Regions from separate parts of the Homo sapiens genome. Here regions 1 and 3 are each linked to region 2. Evidence: fine-mapped expression QTL. A gene starts in region 2. Each other region holds a variant in brackets. All regions are shown on one strand. Distances are between the middles of the regions. Region 1 has its middle 32 kb from the start of SFRP2. Region 2 holds the start of RNF175 (ring finger protein 175). Region 3 has its middle 28 kb from the start of TLR2.

What was found.
Region 1: its variant is fine-mapped to the expression of RNF175 in whole blood (INTERVAL, PIP above 0.99).
Region 3: its variant is fine-mapped to the expression of RNF175 in whole blood (INTERVAL, PIP above 0.99).

Annotation. Positions count from the first base shown.
Region 1 is chr4:153,817,420-153,825,606 of GRCh38, reverse strand. No RefSeq gene overlaps it. Among named protein-coding and RNA genes, the nearest start is that of SFRP2, 32 kb to the right of the region's middle. RefSeq lists an enhancer at 2,547-2,716. The variant AG/G (reference allele first, on the strand shown) is at 4,129.
Region 2 is chr4:153,756,542-153,764,728 of GRCh38, reverse strand. RNF175 (ring finger protein 175) reads left to right here and starts at 4,705. Exons shown (of 9, transcript NM_173662.4): 1 at 4,705-4,932. The coding sequence starts at 4,867.
Region 3 is chr4:153,652,201-153,660,387 of GRCh38, reverse strand. It overlaps the pseudogene LOC100419170 and the pseudogene WDR45P1. Among named protein-coding and RNA genes, the nearest start is that of TLR2, 28 kb to the left of the region's middle. The variant A/TTA (reference allele first, on the strand shown) is at 3,173.

The sequences.
Region 1 (8,187 bases), 61 kb before region 2:
AAGGTAGGAACAAATCTCCCTGGGAAAAGTGCTACATACATTGGGGCATACATTCGTTTTGCTAGACTCCCATGCTGAACTAATTGCACTTCCGAAACTTTCTTGCCTGAGCCATGTTTCAAGAAGGCTCTCAGCTACATAGAACACAAACTACCTTCCATACACATCAAAATCAGAAGAAGTGCCAGATTTCTCCCAGAGCGTCTTGTTTCTCCCCTGCCATTCATGAGAAACCTATTCCAACATGTTGCATTACAGGGAAATTGGAGATGAGACAGTCACAAAAGTAGAGAGATGTTTAGCCTAAGAACAGTTATACGTGTTCCAGAATGAAGCAAAAAAAAGGTCAAACTTAAGTCAAGGAAATGGCTCAGCTTTCTCTAAAACAGAGACAGAGAACTTCTTCTCAGCTGAAAACATAACAAGAACGGGAGAGGAAAGAAACCTGAGATACAGCTTGATAACCTTTCTTGTCTTGGCCAAATATTCATTTGGATTGTCAAAATTCATAGAGAATCAAACTGTGCATGAAGACTAAAGGTGAAGTATAATCTATATATAAATAAAAAGAACTGTAATCATGGCTTAGGAGTAGAGGACCCAAAAAAAATGCATTGCCCATGTACTTTGAAGTTTTAGGATGCTGTGGAAGTCACAAATTCAATAAAGGCCAACTAGAGAGGTCAGACCTGCTCCAGATGTTCCAAATCAGCCTCTCCAGTCAAACCCTGACCATCTAGAAGGAATTAATGATTAGCTATCATGTGAATCCTATTAAAGAATATCTATATTTCTTTTTTAGACACAAAATTCTCTAGAGGATGGTGCTTGCCAAGACTCTGAAAAAATAATCTCTCAAAATTCTTGCAATCCACTGTGTTATGATTTCATCTCATGAAATACAACACCTTTACATTAAAACTCATAAAACTAAATCCCACTGGATCTCTTCCAGACTCAGATTAAGCAGCTCTGTTGGTGATGCTTAGAGAAGGGAAATACAGCCTCATCTCCTCAAACTGGTTCCCACCACTGGGTCCATTTTGCAGGGAGCAAATTTGCTTTACATCTACAAAATATTTACATGTGAGTAATTTCATACATAATAGATCTTGCAAATGCCTTGTGAATGAAAGAATATCTTCCAACATCACAGTGATAATTCCCCTGAAAGGAATCTTTTAAACTGAAATACACACAATTTCATCCTGGTTTTCCAGTCTATGGAAGTTATCTCTGGTTCTCCTGGATTCGCCTGTGGGTGGTCAAAAGTATGAATATAAGGGCCAGAAAGGACAAAATAAAATGCTCTTCTCACTAAAGAGAAATTCACTTGAGTTTACATTATATTCTTGACTCAAGAAGAAAGAACGCCTTGCTAAATAAAGTGACAATATCTACATGTAACATAAACACACACTGACAAAAAGCAAATCTGCACATGCTCCTATCAGTAGCTATACATTTTCCCAATACTTGGTAATTTTTGGCAACAAGGTCATCCTGTGATAAAGATCTCACCAAGAAATAAATCAATGATCAGTAACGCAAAGATTGATACCTCATACATTCATATTATTGTTATTATTAGAAACACTTTCCTTCGTTTACATTTGTCTTCAGTCTTTCCATTTATATCAAAAATGAAACAAACATCATTAAGGAATTGTCTTTGTCAGCCTCATCAAGAATGTTTTACAGGAATTCCACATGTCATCTGAAATGTCTCTGATGCCATCCTTTTTATGTAATACATGAAATGACAGAATATAGACTCTTTTGGTGTCACCACAGGATAGATTTCCATTCACCTCAGCAAATATTACATGAAATAGAGGTAAGTTTCTTGGTCTGGGAAGGCTTTTCTCTAGCTAGGCATTCATATGATAGAATGGAGGTCCTATTTCATTCAACAAGTAACTGTTGAATGCCTTCGTTGAACTGGCATGGTGAAATAAAGCATATTACCAGGTAGTAATAATTGTCCACTTCATAAGAATCCAATCCCATTTCTAATGCATCTTCTAAAGGTCATTAGTATACATTTGACATCCCCTTTTCACCTTTTCTACATTCATGTATTTTCAAGATTCAACCCACCATTCCTGAATTAAAACTCTAAGGTGATTAGCCAGTGGCATTTGGCTGCGGCCTGGGAATTCCAATGTTCCACAAAGGAGCTTCTGCTGGTCTCCTATAGCATTGAAGTTCACAAGGTGCTCACGTCTCTAGTCAATTTCAGGAATATATTTATAATTTACCCATAAGGCACTCATACATGCAAATCCATCCTTTCCACTATTTCCACATTAGTGGGAGTGACATTGTTATCCCCATGTTTCTAGTAGTAAGAAATGACCAGATTAAGGGGTCTGTATTAATCTGTGTCCCATCAAATGATCCTATGTGCCACAAAAGCTTAAGAACCATGGACCTAGGCCTCCCTTATCTTATTCAGGTTGTCAATCATTTATATTATAAATTCATAGAGAGAAAGTATTTTAGTCTTCAAAGCATGAAAATTTTTCTCTCATTGGTTGTTAGCATCAGCTGGACCTATAAGACATCTTACATCAACCGTTTCTGGCTGGCCCCTGGAATACAAATGAAGATAGTGTTTGTGTTACTACAGGGCCAGTGAGGGGGTGTGAGCCCTTATTATCAATTCCAGTGAGCTCTTCTCATATGTAAAAATGCCTTTGCTCTAAACCAATACACAAAAAATACAAAAGAATCACATATTCTCTCATTCACTTCATGTGCCATAAAACATTTACTGATCTCTGCAAGTCTGGCTGTATGGACAACAAATAACCCAGGGCCCACATTTGTAATACAGTGATCATAGAGTATCAGACTTTAAGATGTTTAACCTCTCTGATCTTCCTCAGTTTTTTTCATCTATATGATAGAAATAATACCTTTTTAGTAGGAGTTTTTAAATTATTAAATGAAAATAATACCTATGAAAACACCTTAAACTAATACTAGTTTTTGCTGCTGCTGCCATTATTAAGCCCAAACTGAACCTCCCAAGGCCATTCTTGCCCAAGATCATTTATTCATTCTACAAATATGTCCCAAGCACCTATTAAGTGCCAAGCACTGCATGATTCAGTGATTACTAAAAGCTTTATAGAGCTTATTATGGTCTGTCTAGTGAAGGGGAAATACATTGATTTAATAATCACACTCCAAAAAAATGGAAAGTTGTTACTGTAACAAGTACTGTGAAAGAACGATACGTAATGTTACGAGAATTTATCATAGAGGATTTTGACCAGAGGGGGCCATTATGGTTCATTTATTCAACAACATTAATTGGGCACATTAATTGCCACACACTGTGAAGGTGCCAGGGATTCAAAGATGAAGGCATGATGCCAATCTCCAATAGATTAGCAATGCAGAGAAGAACCAGGAATTCTAGCATCTACTCTCATTCCCTCACTACTACAACCCCTGTCTTCCTCTACACCCACTGCATCTCCGCTCCACCATCAGCATCATTCTCAGTGATTTGGCTAAGTCGCTTGGCCTTCTTGGGGCCTCAGGTACCTCACCTGTAAAACAGCAGAAATGTCTTCCCAGCCTAGGACTGGATCCTGGATCAACTGACCTCTTGGGATTCTTTCCCCTGTAAAGCCAGTGATACGGCAGACGGACTGCCACTTTGGCTGAGGAGTTAGCCTTCTGGTCAGAAAGATTTTTCTCCTAACATCATGGAGAAGAAAAATAAGTCAAGCAAGCAGTATTCCCCATGGGAGGTTCCAATATCCATCCTCCCACAAAGTCAAAGCAACCACAAAAGATAAACTTCCGCCAGGCGTGGCGGCTCACCCCTGTAATCCCAGCACTTTGGGAGGCTGAGGTGGGCGGATCACCTGAGGTCAGGAGTTCAAGACCAGTGTGGCCAACATGGCGAAACCCCGTCTCTACTAAAACTACAAAAATTAGCTGGGTGTGGTAGCTCATGCCTGTAATCCCAGCTACTTGGGAGGCTGAGGCAGGAGAATCACTTGAACGCAGGAGGCAGAGGTTGCAGTGAGCCGAGATGGTGCCACTGCACTCCAGCCTGGGCAACGACAAAAAAAGCAAGACTCCGTCTCAAAAAAAAAAAAAAAAAAA[AG/G]ATAGCCTTCCACTCTGAGGTCAATATGAATTTCAGTGTGGGCCAATACTAATGTTAACCAACACTGGGATTCATCAATTTTTTTTTTTTTTTTTTTTTAGTTCCAGGGTACTTGTGCAGGATGTGCAGGTTTGTTGCACAGGTAAACATGTGCCATGGTGGTTTACTGCACCTATCAACCCATCAGCTAACTATTAAGGCCAGCATGCATTAGCTATTTTTCCTGATGCTCTCCCTCCCCCAACCCCACAACAGGCCCCACTGTGTGTTGTTCCCCTCCCTATGTGTTCTCATTGTTCAGCTCCCACTTACAAGTGAGAACATGTGGCGTTTGGTTTTCTGTTCCTGCATTAGTTTGCTGAAGATAAAGGCTTCCAGCTCCAACCATGTCCCTGCAAAAAACTTGATCTCATTCGTTTTTATGGCTGCATAGTATTCTGTGGTGTATATGTACCACATTTTCTTTATCCAGTCTATCATTGATGGGCATTTGGGTTGATTTCATGTCTTGCTATTGCGAATATTGCTGCAATGAACATATGCATGCATGTATCTCTGTAATAGAATGATTTATATTCTTTTGGGTACATAGTAATGGGATTGCTGGGTCAAATGGTATTTCTGGTTCTTGGTCTTTGAGGAATCGTCACACTGTCTTCCACAATGATTGAACTAATTTACATTCCCACCAACAGTGTAAAAGTTTTCCTATTTCTCCACAGCCTTGCCAACATCTGTTGTTTCTTGACTTTTTAACTGGCATGAGATGGTGTCTTGTTGTTGTGATTTGCATTTCTCTAATTATCCGTGATGTTGAGCTTTTTTTCATATGTTTTTTGGCCACGTAAATGTCTTCTTTCAAAAAGTGTCTATTCATGTCTTTTGCCCACTTTTTACTGGAGTTGTTTGGTTTTTTTGTGTGTAAATTTGTTTAAGTTCCTTGTAGATTCTGGATATTAGACCTTTGTCAGATGGATAGATTGCAAAAATTTTCTCCTATTTACTCAAGTCTTGGAGGAAAAAAAAATAGGGTTTTTCTTTGATATTTTATTATCAGATGGTCTGTTCACTCTGATGATAGTTTATTTTGCTGTGCAGAAGCTCTTTAGTTTAATTAGGTCCCATTTCTCAATTTTTGCTTTTGGTGTTTTCGTCATGAAATCTTTGCCCATGCCTATGTCCTGAATGGTGTTGCCTAGATTTTCTTCTAGGGTTTCTGTGGTTTCAGGTTTTACATTTAAGTCTTTAATCCATCTTGAGTTAATTTTTATATAAGGTGTAAGGAAAGAGTCCGGTTTCAATTTTCTGCATATGGCTAGCCAGTTCTCCCAACACCATTTATTAAATAGGGAATCCTTTCCCCATTGCTTGTTTTTGTCAGGTTTTTGAAGATCAGATTGTTGTACAAGTGTGGTCTTATTTCTGAGTTCTCTATTCTGTTCTATTGGTCTTTGTGTCTGTTTTTGTACCAGTACCATGCTGTTTTGGTTACTGTAGCCTTGGAGTATAGTTTGAAGTCAGGTAGTGTGGTGCCTCCAGCTTTGTTCTTTTTGCTTAAGATTGTCTTGGCTATATGGGCTCTTTTTTGGTTCCATGTTAATTTTAAAGTAGTTTTTTCTAATTCTGTGAAAAATGTCAATGGTAGTTTAATGGGAATAGCATTGAATCTATAAATTACTTTGGGCAGTATGGCCATTTTGATTCTTCCTATCCAGGAGCATGGAATATTTTTCCGTTTTTTTGTTTCCTCTCAGATTTCCTTAAGCAGTGGCTTGTGGTTCTCCTTGAAAAGGTCATTTACTTCCCTTGATAGCTGTATTCCTAGGTATTTTATTCTCTCTGTAGCAATTGTGAATGGGAGTTCATTCATGATTTGGCTCTCTGCTTGTCTGTTGCTGGTATATAGGAATGCTTGTGATTTTTGAACATTGATTTTGTATCCTCAGACTTTCCTGAATTTGCTTATCAGCTTAAGAAGGCTTTGGCCTGAGATGATGGGGTTTTCTTGATATAGGATCATGCCATCTGCAAACAGAGGCAGGTTGACTTCCCCTCTTCCTATTTGAATAGCTTTTATTTCTTTCTCTTGCCTGACTGTCCTGGCCAGAACTTCCAATACTATGTTGAATAGGAGTGATGAGAGAGGGCATCCTTGTTTTGTGCTGGTTTTCAAGGGGAATATTTCCAGCTTTTGCCCATTCTGTATGATATTGGCTGTGGGCTTGTCATAAATGCCTATTATTTTGAGGTATGTTCTTTCAATACCTAGTTTATTGAGAGTTTTTAATATGAAGGGATGGTGAATTTTATCGAAGGCCTTTTCTGAATCTATTGAGATAATCATGTGGTTTTTGTCTTTAGTTCTATTTATGTGATGAATTGCATGTATTGTTTTGTGTATGTTGAACCAGCCTTGCATCCCATTGATGAAGCCAACTTGATCGTGGTGGATAAGCTTTTTGATGTTCTGCTGGATTCGGTTTGCCAGTATTTTATTGAGAATTTTTGCATTGATGTTTATTAAGGATATTGACCTACAAGTTTTCTTTTTTTGTTGTATCTCTGCCAGCTTTTGGTATCAGGATGATGCTGGCCTCATAAAATGAGTTATGGAGAAATCCCTCCTTTTCAATTGTTTGGAACAGTTTCAGAAGAAATGGTACCAGCTCCTCTTTGTACCTCTGGTAGAATTCAGCTGTAAATCTGTCTGGCCCCAGGCTTTTTTTGGTTGGTAGACTATTTATTACTGCCTCAATTTCAGAACTTGTTATTGATCTATTCAGGGATTCAGCTTCTTCCTGATTTAGTCTTGGGAGGGTGTATGTGCCCAGGAATTTGTCCATTTCTTCTATATTTTCTAGTTTATTTGCATAAAGATGTTTATAGTATTCTCTGATGGCTGTTTGTATTTCTGTGGGCTAAGTGGTGATATACCCTTAACCATTTTTTATTTTGTCTATCTGGTTCTTCTCTCTTTTCTTCTCTATTAGTCTAGCTAGTGGTCTATTTTATTAATTTTTTCAAAAAAAGCTCCTGGATTCATTGATTTTTTAAGGGTTTTTCATATCTCTATCTCCTTCAGTTCTGCTCTGATCTTGATGTTTTTTTTTTTGTCTTCTGCTAGCTTTGGGGTTTGTTTGCTCTTGGTTCTCTAGTTCTTTTAGTTGTGATGTTATGGTGTTGATTTGAGATCTTTCTAACTTTTTGATGTGGGTACTCGGTGCTATAAATTTCCCTCAACACTGCTTTAACTGCATCCCAAAGATTCTGGTACATTGTCTCTTTGTCCTCACTGGTTTCAAAGAACTTCTTGATTTCTACCTTAATTTCATTATTTACCCAGAAGTCGTTCAGGAGCAGGTTGTTCAATTTCCATGTAGGTGTGTGGTTTTGAGTGAGTTTCTTAATCTTGTGTTCCAATTTGATTGCACTGTGGTCTGCTTCCAAGATGGTATGTTGTTGCTGCATGCTCCAGAGGGAGTAAATGCCATGTCCTCACGTGGAGGAAGGGATAGAAGGTAATGAACCCACTCCCTTAAGCCCATTTGTAAGAGCCTTAATTCCTTCCATGAAGGCTCTACCCTCATAACTTAATTATCTCTTAAAGCTTACAAAGATATAATCTGATTTATTGCATTACTACCACATTGGCAATTAAGTCTCAACATATGAATTTTGGGAGAATACATTCAGACCATTGCAAAGAGCAAAAATATTTTGAGCTCTTGAAATGCACAAGCAAGGAATTAGTCACCATGAGAGATACCAGGATAAAACACACACACACTCCCAGGAGTTTACATCCTAATCCTGACCCTTGGCTGTAAGCAGGTTTTTTTCCTGCATTCTTGCTGCCTGCTGAGGATGGTAACACAAAATGACAGCAGGCTGTTTATTTCTTTCAAAGCCACATCAGTGGAAGAGGGACATCCTGTGTCTATAACAGGTAGATGGAATTCCTTGTTGAAATTTTTTATGGATTGCTTTGTAGCAGAAAACATGCCTTTAGACATCTCATACTACAAAATAGTCCTGATGTAACTGAGCTGAGCCATGTG
Region 2 (8,187 bases):
AATGAACTGGCTGTTACACGAACCTTAAACCACATGTCATTTGGTTGTGGGGCTGCCATGGGCCAAGAGACATTAATACTGATGGTTCCCAGCTCACAAATGAACTGTGTTCGTGTGTTTGGAAGGCTGTGGTTTGAAAGGCAGAATGCACTTTCCCATAGAAGCAATTTTATAAATGGCAATTAGGGCTACAAGCCAGCTCACAAAAAGCCATGTAACCATAATATAGCTAAACACCATACATTTTAGCCCAACAGAGTGGAAATCAATAGTGTTACAATACTAATAATTAAAGGATGAGATAAAAAAGTACTAGTGCTTAGGCAAAAACAGATTTAATTAAAGGAAGATGAAAATGTCTATCCAGTTAGGCAGAGGGACCAAGGAAAACTGGGACTGTTAAGTCAGGAACCCCGACAGTTGGGAATCAGACCAACTTGCAGGATTTCTGTCAATTCTAAGGAACTAGTGTCTGCATGTGAAGACCAACCTAGCACCCAGAAAGGAGTTTGGGGAGGGGGTGGAATGGAGGGTTAGGACGACTGAAAAGAAGTTAGCCTAGTCATTCCTATGCAGCTATTTCATCAGCCAAGATGGGACCTGGCTTCAGCGTTCCTCCCCTCTTGGGTGATTATTCCTATTTATAACAAAGCCAACCCTGGCCCCAAGAACCACTGGAGTCCAGAAAGTTTGGTGTCTTTTTCATACTGATTTCTGAGATCAGACAAGCTCTTGGATATTCACACAGCCTGGATGGATTTTTACCTCCCTGCCCTGCCCTCATGTAGATGAACCTGCTCTTGCTATCCCCTTCACAGAGGAGAAGTTCTGCCAGTTGCATGGAGTCTCCCTCTGCCATCCTATTCCACATGTGACCAGCACTGCACCTGGCTGGAGACATTCTGAATCATTTATTCTAGCTTAATGCTAGGGATCAAATACACATTTTATCTGGGAATATGAAAAAGACATGAGATATCTGTATATGGTATATGAAATATGAAAAGATGAGAAATGAGGAAAGGAGTAAATTGAAAATGGAAGTTACTTGAAAAAGATCATTTGTAAAGCAATACAATGGCATTCTGCAAGATCTAACCATTAGGTGGCACCACTGGCCCAAGGAAGTTTGGTGGCCCCAAGAAAGTGGAGGAGAAATGGGGAAAATTGCTGAGTGGTCTAGGGTAGGAAGGCTGGAGGGAGCCACTGCGGAACAAGTAACTGAACATATACAAGCATTCCTGTGAAGTGTGTACTCTGAATTAATCCACATATTAATAAATTCAATCATTAATTCCCTTAAAATTATTTTTAAAGTCTCATAATTTTATTTATACAAATTGATTTATATCCCTTGCCCATTTCTATTGATCTACGCTTTTTAAAAATTAATCTCTAGCAGTTCTACTTATTCTGAGTACTAGTCCTTTGTCAATGAGTTATATACAAATATATTCTGGTTCATGGCTTGCCTCTTTTTTAACCGCAAGTTTCTGTTGTACAGAAATTTTTCATTTTAATACAGGCAAACTTTTTTCTTTGCCATTTGTTCTTTGTGAGTCTTGTTTAATATATCTTTTCTTATCTTGAGACCATAAAAACATTCTTTTAGATAAACTATTGCTTTCTAACCACCAGTTTTGTGCTGGTATGGTATAATTTTTTTTTCTTATGGATAAACCAGTTACTAAATAATCTATTTTTTTCTGCTGATTTGCTACTCCTCTCATGAAACTAGTTTTCCATAAATGTATGTGCCCATTCTGTTCCTTGAGTCTGTTGATTCCTGCACCAAATATGACAATCAACTGACTAGTGATTCTTGACCCCACCTTGTTTCTCAAACACATTTACCACATTAGCTAATTTCTTCCATTACATCATTACAACCACCTCAGGACTCTACATTGCGGGACATGAAGAAGGATGCACAGACTACAGATAAAATGCTGAAGAGATTAGTGTTAAGCAGCAGAATACAGTTCATCTATTCCAGGACAGAAGACAGAGTCAGCCGCCAACCATTTGATTTGGAAAACAAAATTTCAAATTAATTAACCTTGTTTCAGTGAACTACTCCAGAGAGCATTGCCTAACTGACTGGGAAATTAAATATTCATTCTGAATATCTGCAATTTGATCATAGAAGAAACCAGGTATAAGAGGAGGATAGATTAGAGCAAAGCCATCGTTACTGATGGGGAAGAAATGCACTTTTTGAGTTTTATTCTGATATGATTGCTGAGCTGAAGCCAGAAGGAAGATGATACCTTTGTGCATACATGGGTCTCCAGTGAAGTATGTGGGTCTTTTTGGTGCCAATCAATCAGGAGAGAGAGTTTCAAATCTGGGACCTGAGACTTATATAACAATAACAGGTCAGAATTTTATAGAAAGGGAACATCTATCTCCATATGGACTATTTTCATTTTATTATTTTGCTGCCTTGGGAGAATCTAGATGAATGTGAGGATATCCTGGGCTGGAGAGAAAAAATGGCTCTTGCCACATGAAGGCAGGCCACAAGATAGGTAGAGAAGTAACATGTCCAAATGAACCCACTATTTTTGTGTCCCCAAATCTGCTGCTCTTTCAATGTTCCCATTCTCAGCAATGGCAGCACTGTCTGCCCAAATGCTAGACTGCCCAAGCCACATGCCTGGGCACCATCCTTGGAGATGAGTCAAGTACAGTAGATTCTATTACCTAGATCTCCCATCCCCAAACACATCTCTCCATCTCCCCTCCACTCTGTCCCCGCACACACTCTCACCACCAAGGCCACTGTCATCCTTAGAGCTGAAACTACAGCAATAGCTTTCTGGCTGGTCTCTCTGTCTTGAGTCATAGTCATAGCCCTCTTCCCCACTCTTGAAGCCAAAAGGCAAGTCTGGTAATGTCATTTTCTTGCTTAAAACTCGGTAATGGCTTCTCATTCTCCTGAGGCTACAGTCCAAACTGTTTAATATGATTTATGTGGATCTGGCCCTTGCTGACCTTCGCAGCTACTTCCTTGAGAGATTAAGAACCCAGACCATGAAGTCAGTTTTGTCTGGGTTCAAATTCCCACTGCCCCACCTATTAGCTTCAAAACTTGAACAAACTTCTGGACCTCTCTGTGCTTCAGTGTTCTCCCGTGTAAAACACGGACGGTCACAATGCCCACCTCACAGGATTGTCAGGAAGACTGAATGAGCTAACACAGGTAGAGTGCTCAGGACGGCACCTGGCACACGGTAAGCATTCTATCAATGTTAACCATGATTTTTATTTCTCCAATTCATTATGCCTTCTCCAGCATTCCGGCCCTTGCATCCACTGTTCTCTCCATCTCAGACACTCTTTCCAACACACTCTGATCATGCTACAAGGTAGTCTTCAGATGTAGGTAACAGCCCCAGCGGCACCTGAAAACTTGTTCAAAAGACAAATGCTCAGGCTCCACCCTAGACCTACTATATTAAAAACTCTAGGGCTCAACTCCAGCAATCTGAAGATTTTTGTTTTGTTTTTTGATAGAGTCTCGCTCTGTTGTCCAGGCAGAAGTGCAGTGGTTCCATCACGGCTTACTGCAGCCTGAACCTCCCGGGCTCCGGCGATCCTCCAGCCTCAACCTCCTGAGTAGCTGGGGCTACAGGTGTACCACGCCCAGCTCACTTTTGTATATTTTATAGAGATGGGGCTTCACCATGTTGCCTAGGCTGGTCTCAAACTCCTAGGTTCAAGCAATCCGCCCGCCCTGTCCTCCCAAAGTGCTGGGATTAAAGGCATCAGCCACTGTGCTTGGCCAGCACTCTGAGTTTTAACAAACTCAGCATTCCTCCATAGGATTCTGATGCCCAGTTAAGGCTGGAAAACCAAGGCACCATCCGTGATAAATTGTACTTAGATGCTTATTTTTCTCTATCCCCTGTTAGGCTCTACGTTCCACAATGGCAGAGAAATGTCCATCTTGGTCTGTTCACCTCCTTTGTAGGTGTTGACAAATACGAGCCATCACAAACTGGAAAGGGGTAAGCTGTATTTCGTAGGACACATCATCTAATTCTGTGCTCCTCTTTTCTGTTTCCCCAAATCAACACCCAGGTATTTCTAAAGGCTTGCCTAAACGTTCCAGCTTGTTCTCAACCTTGAAGCCAGGCTTAGGCCTAAGTTGTAAAGGCGGGAGGGGAGACCCTGGAGGTAGAGGGGCAAAGGCAAGATGCTTGCGTCGCAGGGGCCCTGCATGGCCTGGAGCAGCATAGGGGCCAAGATGGTCTGCGCTCTCCCTAGATTGGAGTTTCTCTCCTTCATCATCTTTGGAGGAAGCACAGATAACTGAGGAAAGTCTGTATCTGCACAGCCACCCGAACTCCTGCCTCCTAATAAACACCTCTGAGGGAGAGGAAACTCTCTCTCTCTCTTCTCTTCCTCCCCAGCACCCCTCGCCCCCCCACCGCCATTTCTCACTCCTCTACTCCCCTCTCTCTCCCTACCCACCTCTGACCCCTCCTCCAGTCCTGCCGCCCGGTAACAAAACCGGGGTTCCCGCCACACGCACCCGGTAGGGCTCAAGACGCTTTATCGGCGACAATGGCTGGCTGAATGGGAGGCCTGAGGTTCTGAAGGAACCGGGGTGCTGGCGACCGGGACCTCGAGGCCGCTGCTGGGGAGGACGCTGGCCAGCGTGCAGGGGGCGGAGGCGGGGCGTGCCGGGAGGCTCCCATCTCCCGCCCCGCACAACCCGGGCAGGGCCGCCGCTCCGCCGCCGCCGCAGATCCGGCTCTCACCCTCGGCTCCCGAGGCCCCGCGGCGCCTCCTTCTGCGGACTCTGCGGGACCCTCCCCGGCAGGCGCTGTGCCCTGGAGAAGGCACAGTGGCTCAGGCATGGCCGCGGGGACGGCGGCGCGGAAGGCAGCGCCGGTGCTGGAGGCCCCCCCGCAGCAGGAGCAGGTACTGGCGCGGGGGCGCGGGCGTGGGGGACGCCAGGCCGGGGTCCCGGGGCTCACGCTGGTGCCGGGCAGGCTGCACAGACTGGTCTCCAAGACCCCGGGCCCCACCGGGGAGAACCGGCCCTGGAAAGACGTGGGGACGGACGCATGACCTTCTGGAAGATGCCACCGTGCGGGGTGCCAGTCCCTCCTCCACTCCCTCCCTCCCCACTTCTGTGCCCTCCCCGCTACCTTCCTTTCCTCCTTCTGATCCTCTTCCTTCGCTCCATCCCTCTTCTCGCATCCTCGCACTTTCTCTTCCAGGCTCACCCCTTCCACTCCCGCCCTCCTTTGTGACCGCCTGTGCCCTCCTCCCTCCTCGGCGGAAGCCCCCAGAGCCCAGGGTCAAGGTCGTAAGCTGCGAGAGAGGGGAAGGGGTGTACTGCAGGCTTTTGGCTAGACCGCCCTGGTTCTCAAACTCGAGTGTCATCAGAATCACTCGGAGGGCCTGTTACCACGCAGACTGCTGGTCTGTGCCCAGGGTTTCTGATTCAAGATGTGTACCCTGATCGTCAGCTTGTCTTGCCTGGTGCTCAACCTAGCCCATTTCTGCTTCTGCTGGCGTCAATTGCAAACCCAATCTTAATTTATTCTTCGTTCATAGGACAATTCTTCTTAGGCTACATCCAGGTACCAGGAGGATTTGGGGGTGGAGGAGGGTAGGTCTTACCTGGAGGAACCCAAATCCCATCCGTAAAACGAGGACAAAAATAACTCTTAAGGGCAAAGATAACTCTTAAACAACAACAAAAATCACTCACAGAGCGGGTAGGAAGAGATTAATGTCCCAAAATAGGTTCAGGCAAAGAACTGTAGGATTTCTGAGAAGGGCTTGCTCCTGACTAACCCCCTTCTCCTCCAACCCGTGAGGGCGTGGCATTCGAGCTGGGTGTTGGGGAATGGACAGGATCTGACCTCATGGGCCAGAGAATTCTAGATGGAGGGAACAACAGTACCAAATGGCTTGGAGATTTTTTTTTTTTTAATATTGGGATGGATGGCCATGGGACAAGGCAGAGAGAGGGGACTGTCCACTCTGACTGCCAGAAACCTAGGGGTCAGGAATGCTTATAGCAAAAAATAAGGGTGGGCTAGGCTGTGGAGGGGCTTGTGTACCACAAAATGGGGAAACTTAAAATGAAACTCCATGACTTTCTTGCTGGTTTCAAACCCAGATTATCGAAAGGGAGGTTCTGAATTGATGAATGCATGCCAGGAGTGTCAGAGGATCTAGTACTGGTGGATTTGCTGCTGATCTTTGCTCTTCCTTAAGGCTGGCATCACTGCCTAGTCTGCTGCCCTCAGGAGGTATGGCCTCTCTGTTGAGGCTGCCCTAGGAGGGACTCACAGCTTTTCCCTTAATCCCATATGGCAAGACAGTGTGGTCCAGGAACCAGCAGCCAAGGCATTACCTGGGAGCCTGTTAAAAATGCAGTCTCAGTTCCCACGCCAGACCCACTGAATTGAAATCCGCATTTTAACCAGATCCCAGGGTGATTCATTTGCACATCAAAGTTCAAGAAGTGCTGGTTTCTTGACTTTACTAGAGCTAGGGATAAGAAAGTGAAAACAGAGATAGTTACTGACCAGCCTATTATCTGATAGCTTCCCTTTGGTTTGAACCTCACCCTATTTTATTTTCCTTCATCACCCTTATCACTACCTGAAGTATGTCTATGTGTGTATTTGATTGTCTAAGAACCTCCTTCAGCATGAAAGCTCCAGCAGAAAAGCCATGTGGTCTGCCTTGCTCGCTCCTGTATTTCCAGGACCTAGAACAGTCTCAGCAAACGGCAGGGCCTCAATAAATATTTATTGAATGAATAAATGAACAGTAACGTACAATCTTATGATGTAAGACCCTAACTCCAGCATACCTTACTGGACAAACACCATCTCCCTATTCCCCATCCTCCACCTCCCCAGCTACAACCCCTGGGGTCTTTTGAGCCTGCAACTGGTTAGGTATGTTTGAAACTCCTAAAATTTGGAGTGTGAGAGCAGAGACCATGGGTTTAGGAGTTCCCTCTTCTGCTTGTCTAAGGCTTGCTTTCCAGGCTCGGATTTCTCCTGAGAGCTGAGAGGACCCACCACTTCCCCAAAACTGCTCTCTGCCTGGGGGCAGGCCATACACAGCCCCTCCTCTCCACCCACAGGCATGCAGCCTTGCCTTGTGACATGAATTCCTTACCAATGAATACAGCCCTCTAAACCTAACATTCCTACCTGGCACTCACATGTGGTCCAGGGTCATCACTAGTTTCTGAGTTCATTGTTCTGGCTTTGCTACTTGGTTTAGAAAGATTTTTCTAACAGGTGGGTTTTGTGAGGGAAGAGTTGAAAGTGACAAAATCAGTTTGGAGGCAGCAGTTCAGGTGAGAGATAATGAAAGCCAATCGGGGTGGCAGTCTCCAAACACATTGAGTGTGCCATGCACCAGACATGAGGATTCAGTGGGGGGATGAGGCCAGCGCTGGCCACCTACAGATTCAGGTAAGTAAATAAGTCATCAACAATGCAGTCTGGTAACAATGTTCAAGGTCAGTATATATCCTGGTAGGGGCCTCACCGAAAGGGTGTCCTGGAGTAAGTGGGATCCAAGGGTGAGCAGAAATGAGGCAACCCAGCATGGAGGCTGGGAGTGGAGGGAGAGCATTCAGGGACAGGAAAGCTCTGCTTGGCTGGAGCAGAGGGTGTGCAGGGGCAGTGGAGAGAGGGGAGGCTGAAATGGGATACAAGGCCTTGTGAGCCATGTTGGATTTCAGGCAGGAAGACAATAGGATCAGTCTACCTTTAATGGGAACACTCTTACTGTTTGAAGAGGGAAGAGAGCGAAGGCAAGGGCCTCAGAGGAGGGGGACACCCTGCATGCTGGCCTCCATCTCATCTTCCCCTAGCCACCCTATCTAAAGAGTGACAGCCCTTGCCCTCTGCTGGTAATTCTTTATCACACATTTTATTTTCTTCATATAATTTACTTCATTAGGCAGTTGTTTTGTTTGCTTGTTTATTGTGCATCATTTCCTCTAGAACACAAGGTCCTATTCATGAGAACAGACACCTTGTTTGTCTTTCTAACCCTTGAATGCCAGCTCTTAACCCAGTGGCTGGCACATGGGAGGCACCACTCCATATTTGCTGAATGAATGACAAAATGAATGGCATAGAAGCCATAGGGGTGGAGAGAAGGGGGCATGTTTGTGAGGCATTTATAGGT
Region 3 (8,187 bases), 100 kb after region 2:
AGCAGGAATAGTACCTCATCAACCTTGAGTATGCAAGGTTGGGTACAATGGGGTCTTAGTCTACCTTAAGTTTTCATTTGGTCAAACTGTTCAGATTGGCTTTTAGAAGCTTAGGATGATGTAACTTTTGTTTGTTGTGATAAATAACATTCCAAAGTGATTTTTAAACATTTCTGATAACATGAAACATAACAAAGGCAGTATGTATAGAGGTTATGAATAGAGATTCTGAGCCATCTTGCTAACTGCATGATTTTGAGCAAGTTATTATCTCTGTAAAATGGACTTCATAGGGTTGAAAATTTGGTGAGATGGCACATGTAAATTACCAGCAGTACCTGATGTTTGTTTGTTTGTTTGTTTGTTTGTTTGTTTTGCCATTAAGGGCCTTTTATTCATATTCATCACATCGGAGATCATCTCTTCCTAGGAAGCTTTTAAAAAATCCCCAGGTTGGATTAGGGCACTTCCTCTGGGTCCCTGGCAATTTCCTCCAGGTTAGGGATCCCAAGGGGTCTCTGCCTTCCTGGGTCTCTGGCCTGGCCCTTGGGGCACACAGTCATCAAGAAGTGCTGGGGGGAAGTGAGCTCTTTATTTAGACATAGCTCTGCTGAGTGGAAAGTGGGCACCAGCCGCATTAATGCTTGCTGGCTAGTGGCTTCCAAGCATGCCCCACTGCCAAGGCTCAGCTCTGCAGTCTGCCACTGCAGGTCTCTAGCACAGCTCCCAGGGTCCTTAAAAGTCATCATCATCACAGATGTCAAAGTACACATCGAAAGCCTCTCTGTTGCAGCTTCCATCAGGAGTGAAGACATATTTGTGGAAGGTCCCATCTACACAGATGGCAATGACAGAGTTGAATTTCTTGGAAGTATTGCGACCGAAGGAGCAGATGCAAGCTGACTCAGCAGGCACAGTGAACCTCGCCAGGCTCCACTGAGAGTCCACGTACTGCCCAATCATAGGCCCCACCTTGTCCACGGAGCCAGCGCGGAGCAGCGGTTAAGGTGGGTATCCTTGAGAGCAAAGATATGGATGGTGCCCTTATCGCTGGAAGCGCAGAGGAAGGAGGAGTCGTGGCTGAAGTTAATGCAGTAGAGGGTGGCAGGGTCAGTGCCTCGGTGCAGCTCCACCAGTTTCTCCTTGAATTGTGTGTCAAAGAGGCGAATAAGGGTACCATTCTGGGAGGCTGAGGCCACTACAGTGCCTGGCTGGTTTAGAGACACACAGGTTATGTCACTCTGATGTGCATTGATGGTGAATGGAGCAGACATGGTGCCAGGCTTTGTGCTCGCCAGGTCCACAAGTTGCAGACTCCCACACTTGTGTCCCGGGAACACTAACAGTTGCTTGTCCAGGCTGGGGCAGAGGTCACAGAGCCTGTTGGGGTTGACCCGGGTATCAAACTCAAACAGCTTTCGAGGATTGTCTGGGAAGGAGTACACATAGATGCGGTTCTTCAGCACGGTCACGATCTTGCCATGGAGCATGCACAGAGAAAGCACTGGCTTGGTGAAGATGAACTCCAGCACCAGCCTCTCCTTGGAGTCCTTGCCCTCCCGGGCATCGTCCCAGATCAGCACTGAGATCTCTGAGAACTTGGGGCTACTACCACCGCCCACCAAGGCCAGAAGGTTGCAGCGGTGCAGCATCTCCACCAAGCCTATGCTGCCACCTGCTTGTGGTCCAGATGCCCCTTCTCCATCAAGGGCTCCACGTTGTAGATGCGCACACCTGTCTCCATGGCGCAGCAAAAGCAGTTTTGGTCTTGGTTGAAACGCAGGCTGGTCACTCCTCAAAGTGGCTGTTGAGTCAAGGTCCAGGATTGTTCCCCCTGGGATCGTGCTCCAGCTTCCTGCCGCCTTCACCAGCCTGACCTCCGCGTGTCCCCGACCCAGGCCCCAGCTGTCGGTGCCGCCTGCCCGTACCTAATGCTTGTAAGTGCTAGATATGAGTTCCTTGGTAAGTAGAGCCAAATGAATAAGTATATTTGTTTTATAAAAAATGAATTCTGGTGATAGGGTCTGGGGAAAGAGCAGCAAGGTGGCAAGAAGAGACCAAGAAACAAGCCAAAGAGATGGAGGAGGAAGACAGGATTCCAAGCAGAAGCAAAAAGAGGAGCAGAAGAAACTTGAGGGGCTAAAAGCAAAGGACACAGGGAAGGGACTCCTGGCCACAAGTGGAATTAAGAAATCTGGCAAAAAGTATTATCGTAAGCAAATTAGTGCATAGACTGAAAACCAAATACCATGTGTTCTCACTTATAAGTGGGAGCTAAACTTTGTGCTCATGGCCATAAAGATGGCAATGATAGAAACTGGGGATATTAGAGCAGGGAGGAAGGAGGTTAAGGGTTGAAAAACGAAATATTGAGTAGTATGTTCAGTACCTGAGTGATGAGATTATTTGTAACACAAACCTCAACACCACACAATATATCCAGGTAACAAACCTGCTCATGTGCCCCCTGAATCTATAATAAGAGTTGAAAATAAATAAATAAGAAACCTGAGGAAAAAAAAAAGCTGTTCCTTGTGACTGAGGCAATGATGACCCTTGATTCCATTGCTATTTAAACCTCTGCATTTCCTGCCATAACATCTTTTGCCACCTATAGTTAGAATGAACTGTTGTCTTACAGCCTGCTGTACATGTAAGAGTAAACTTTTGTTTAAAAAAAATCAAAAAAGAAGAATCGAGTGGAGAAACAAAGCTGCCTGTCTATACAACAGATATGCAAAAACATTAGGCATATGAATACTAATTATAATGATAGGTTGACAAAAGTACATAATTATGGGGTGAATGACATGAAAGAGGAGTTATACGTCAGTTGACTGAGGAACTTTTAGACACTGCAGAGTTACTAAGGAAACTACAGAGTTTCAAAGCTGTATTGGCAAAGAATAAAAATTATAAGAGAAAAACAATATGAAAATTTTCCTCCACCTTTTATTTTTTTAATTTTCTTTCTTTTTTTTTTTTTTTTGAGACAGAGTCTTGCTCTTTCACCCAGGCTGGAGTGCAGTGGTGCAATCTTGGCTCACTGCAACCTCCACCTCCCAGGTTCAGGCGAGTCTCCTCCCTCCCAAGTAGCTGAGATTACAGGTGTGCACAACCATCACAACCATGCCAGGCTAATTTTTGTACTTTTTTTTTTTTTTTTTTTTTT[A/TTA]GTAAAGACGGAGTTTCACCATGTTGGCCAGCTGGTCTTGAACTCCTGACCTTAAGTGATCTGCCTGCCTTGGCCTCCCAAAGTGCTGGGATTACAGGCATGAGCCACCATACCTAGCTGACCTTTTGTTTAAAAGCATTTGTTTCTAAGATCATAATTCAATTGACAGGAAAATACCAGGTAATGATTGCCTCTAAGAAAATCAGTCCCTAAACTTGTCCCATCTCTAGCTCACTGAGGGCATAATCCCCAGTGTAGACCCAATATGAGATCACTGACCTTCCCTTCATTTTACTCTTGAAAAGAAAGACAGAAGTTATGAAGAAATAGTCATTCCCTGAGGGACACGCAGAGGAATAACTAGCCCAAAACTCTTTAGGGGAATTCTATGTGGAAAGTGTTTACTTGGATTAATAAGCGCCTTTGGTAAAAAGGCAATTATATGAAGTAATGTAAATATATTGGGCTGTCAGTCATTCACACTTTAATATGAATTAGATCAATCATAATGTTTTCCTCTAACCAACTAGATGAGCTCAGTGTCTCTCAGGAAATGAGACTATCGATGGCAAAAAGGGAGCAGAGGGCATTACGTAGCAGAGGTTCAGGTGGGACAGCGCAGGAGGAAGTATTTGGAAAGAAGTTGGGGATACATTTAGAAGCAGAGACCTAGAGAACAGGAAAGGGGAGGAGGGGACAGAGAAAGGGGAGAGAGGAATGCATTAATGAAAACTTTATTTCTAGGAGTGTTTTGCCTCTTTGTCAAAGGAGGGGTCGAGGCCCAATCTGCAATCTCAATAATAAATTATCACTTTTCTATCAGAGAAGAGGAGACAGGGAAAAGAAAAGGACATTCCTCTCTTTTCCAAGAATGAGGGACCGCTCTGCTGAGAAAGTTTGCTTTGGCATTGAAAGAAACACTGGAAGGTTGTTGTTCTGTTTTAAACCTCAGAAACTTGCGTAACTGGGCCAACACCAGCTGTGCCAGGAACTGGTACAGGGTAGGTCTGTCTTGCCCAGACCGTCCAGGGAATAACTACATTAAAATTCTGCTCTTGCATAATATGTTTCACAGAAATTTTAATCATAGGAAATGAAACTGACTGCTGCAAAGGACCTGAATTTCCTGTGGACACTGCCCCTGGCTAGTACATGGCCATCCCCTCCAGACTCAGAGAGGAAGGGGTGGCAGAGGGAGGATGGGAAGAAAGCAGTAACCAGCAAGCGCCTACTGGGGACCAGGCATGTGATTTCGGACAATCAATGTTTATTGTCATCAGCATGCCCTTTGGTCAGGCATGATGCTAGTTGCTGGGGTTAATGGCAAGAAAGTCCTGGTCTTTGACCTGAAGAAGCTCACAGTCTAGTGGGGAAGAAAGAAGTTGAACAAGTAATTCCAAGGGGGCAACATGAGCAGCACTGCAGGCATGAGGCAGAAGTCTCTTAGCATCCCCAGGAAATAACTCATCCTTGTTTAGCAGATGGGCCACCCAAGGCTCAGAGAGATCATTGAAGCAAGTAAGAGTGTCGTCAGGGAGTGAACATCAGACATCTCCTTCCCAAGCCTGTGTTCCTTCTACCAGCTAAGTGAAGGGCCTGCCATGTGCATGTTGCCAGGGTAAGGGAAACTGTGGCCTCCCCCTTACTAGTTGGGTAGTCTTGAGTATGTCATTCAGTGTTTCTGGGTCTGGGTTTCTTGGGAATGTTACCTTTTTAGGGGGTTGTTCAAAAGACGAGATTAGATGGCAGAGGTGAAAAGTGGTGTGACTGAAGTTGTCTGTCTGACTAAAGCTGAAGTAGTCCAAAGTCCAAACTCTGAAGCCTGGAGTCTGAAATCCAGGGTCAGGAGTCTGAAGTCTGAAGTCAGAAGTCTGGTCTGGAGTCTGAAATATGAAATCTGGTCTGGAGTCTGAAGTCTAAAATCTGAAATCTGGGTCTGGAGTCTGAAGTCTGGTCTGGAGTCTGAAGTCTGGAGTGAATCTGAAGTTCGAAGTCTGATCTGGAGTCTAAAAGTCTCCTGTTGTCTGGAGTGTGGAGTCTCTTGTCTGGATTGTGGAGTCTCTTGTCTGGAGTGTGGAGTCTGTTGTCTGGAGTGTGGAGTCTGTAGTCTGTCGTGTGGAATGTGGAGACTGGAGTGTGTTGTCTAGAGTCTGTTGTCTGAAGTGTGCGATCTGGAGTCTGGAGTCTGAAGCTGGAGTCTGAAAGTCTGTTGTGTGGCATGTGGAGTCTGTTGTCTAAAGTCTGGAGTCTGAAGTCTGGAGTCTGAGGTCTGAAGTAGTCTGACTAAAACTGAAATAGTCTTTAAACTAAAAACTATCTTTCTCGTGCTCATTGGTACTATTGTTATGCAGTTGAACACAGTGTTGGTAGAAAAGGAGAAGCAGAAAGAATGTAGATTAAACTTTGATTCCCATCTTGCCTTTCCTTCTGCTGGAGCCACTTCAGATGTTTTCTTTTTTTTTTTAATATATATATATATATATATATATATAATACTTTAAGTTGATTTCTTAATCTAAGTAGAGAGCAGCTTTAACTTGCTTTGAAAAAGCATTTTATTCTGCACAGCAAAGGAAAAAAATTAACAAAATGAAAAGAACCTATAGAGGTGGGTAAGGGGGAGGCGGGGGGATGGGTATGGTTAATGGGTACCCAAAAAATAGTTAGAAAGAATGAATAAGACCGACTATTTGATAGTACAGCAGGGTGACTATAGTCGATAATTTAATTGTACATTTTAAAATAACTAAGAGTTTAATTGTATCATAAGACAAAAGATAAATGCTTGAGGGGATTTTCTGTGACACAATTTGCCTGTATCAAAACATCTCACACACCTCATAAATATATACACCTACTATGTACCCACAAAAATTAAAACAAGATTTTAAACTTTATAGTAAAATAAAGAAAAAAAGAACCTATAGAATGGGAGAAAATTTGTAAACCTTATATATAATAAAGGGTTACTATCCAAAATACATAAAAAATTCAATTCAATAGCAAAAAAACAAATAACTGGATTTAAAGTGGGAAAATAATCTGAATAGATATTTTCCCAAAGAAGACATAAAAATGGCCAACAGGCATATAAAAATGTGCTCTACATCACTAATCATCAGGGAAATGCAAATCAAAACCACAATAAAACATCACCTCATACCTGTTAGGATGGCTAGTACCAAAAAGCCAAAAGATAAGTGTTGGCAAGGATGTGGAGAAAGGGAACTGTTATACATTATTGGCGGGAATGTAAATTGGTATAGCCATCATAGAAAACAATATGGAGTTTCCTCAAAATATTAAAACCAGAACCACCATATGATCCAGCAATCCCTCTTCTAGGCATATACCCAGGGAAAATGAAATCAATATGTCAAAGAGCTGTCTACACTCCTATGTTTATTGCAGCATTATTCACAATAGCCAAAATTTGGAATCAACGTAAGTGTCCATCAATGAATGAATGGATAAAGAAATGTGGTGTATACTACACAATGAAATAGTATTCAGCCTTAAAAAAATAAGGAAATCTTGCCATTTGCAACAACATGGATGAACCAGCAGGACATTATGCTAAGTAAAATAAGCCAGTCACAGAAAGACAAATACTGTATAATCTCACTTACATGTGGAATCTAAAAAAAGCCAGACTCATAAAAACAGAGTAGAACAGTGGTCACTAGGAATGGTGGAAATGGGGACATTGGTCAAAGGGTACAAACTTTCAGTTATAAGATAAATAAGTTCTGAAGCTCTAATGTACAGCATGGTGAGTGTATAGTAATAATATATTGCATACTTGATATACTCGAAATACTTGGTATTTGCTAAGAGTAGATCTTAAGTGTTCTCACACAATGTAACGTGAGATAATGGACATGTTTATTAGCTTGATTGTGGTAATCATTTCACAATGTATACATATATCAAAACAAGTTGTACACTTTAAATATATTAAAATTTTTGTCAGTCATACCTCAATAAGCTAAAAAATTTTTTAAAGCATTTTAATGATTGAAGAAAAATGATTGAAGAGGTAACTTGCAATAAGAGTTACTGAAGTGCTGAATGCTTCTGTACTTCAGAAGCATCACAGAAATGCAGATCATGCTGTATATGCATATATTTTATATGACTGAGTCTGCTTTCTATCTAAACATTACTCTGTTTCTATCTAAACACTACTCTGCCTAGTACTTTTTGTGTGCGCAATATCATCCTGAGCTTTGGATATTCCCAGTTTTCCAGACTTTTCTGGGCTCTGGAAAGGCACAGTCATAGCTATATTTAACTGCCCTATTATTCCTTTGGAAACACGGGCATATAAAAATAAATAAATAAAATAAGAGAGAGTCCCAGGGTCACAGAATGTGTAGCAGGAGAGATTCCAAAAGGAGGGCTGGTCTGTAGGGTAGGATCGCATGGAGAAGTGAAGAATAAGGACTTTCCAGATACCTTGATGTGAGGTGCCAGATCCCACAGGGGCTTAGAGTCACTGACTTCCTGTTTCAAGCACCCAGGAAATTGCAAAGTGACCAAGGCAAGGAAATACCCAAAGATCAGCTTCCAATTTTTGCTGGTGCAGCCTTTTCTGTCACACCACACATTGCTGTGCGTTGTTCATTGTCCAGTCATTCATCCGCTGAATTTCCATGAAGTCACTTCCATGGGCCAGATACTGTGCTAAGCAATTGCAGGGGGCGGGGAGGCGGGGGGGTAGGTATAATTCAGGAGGGGACACGAGGTGCTCGTATCAGTAATTATGCCAAAAGCAGGATGCCCAGAGGGAATGATGACTAAGGGAACTCTGAGTCCTTCCTGAGTCCCTAGGTCTCACTTCAGTGACTGAGAATGGACAAGGGCCTGCCTAGGTCTCTCCTAGCCCCTGACTACACCTGTATGTTAGGTCGGCTTGTCCCACAGGAATGACTTGAGCGAAGCAGAACAGAAGAATGTAAACATTTTGTTTTAACAACAAGGTGGGGTTATGCTACAGTTTTGTTTTCTTGGTA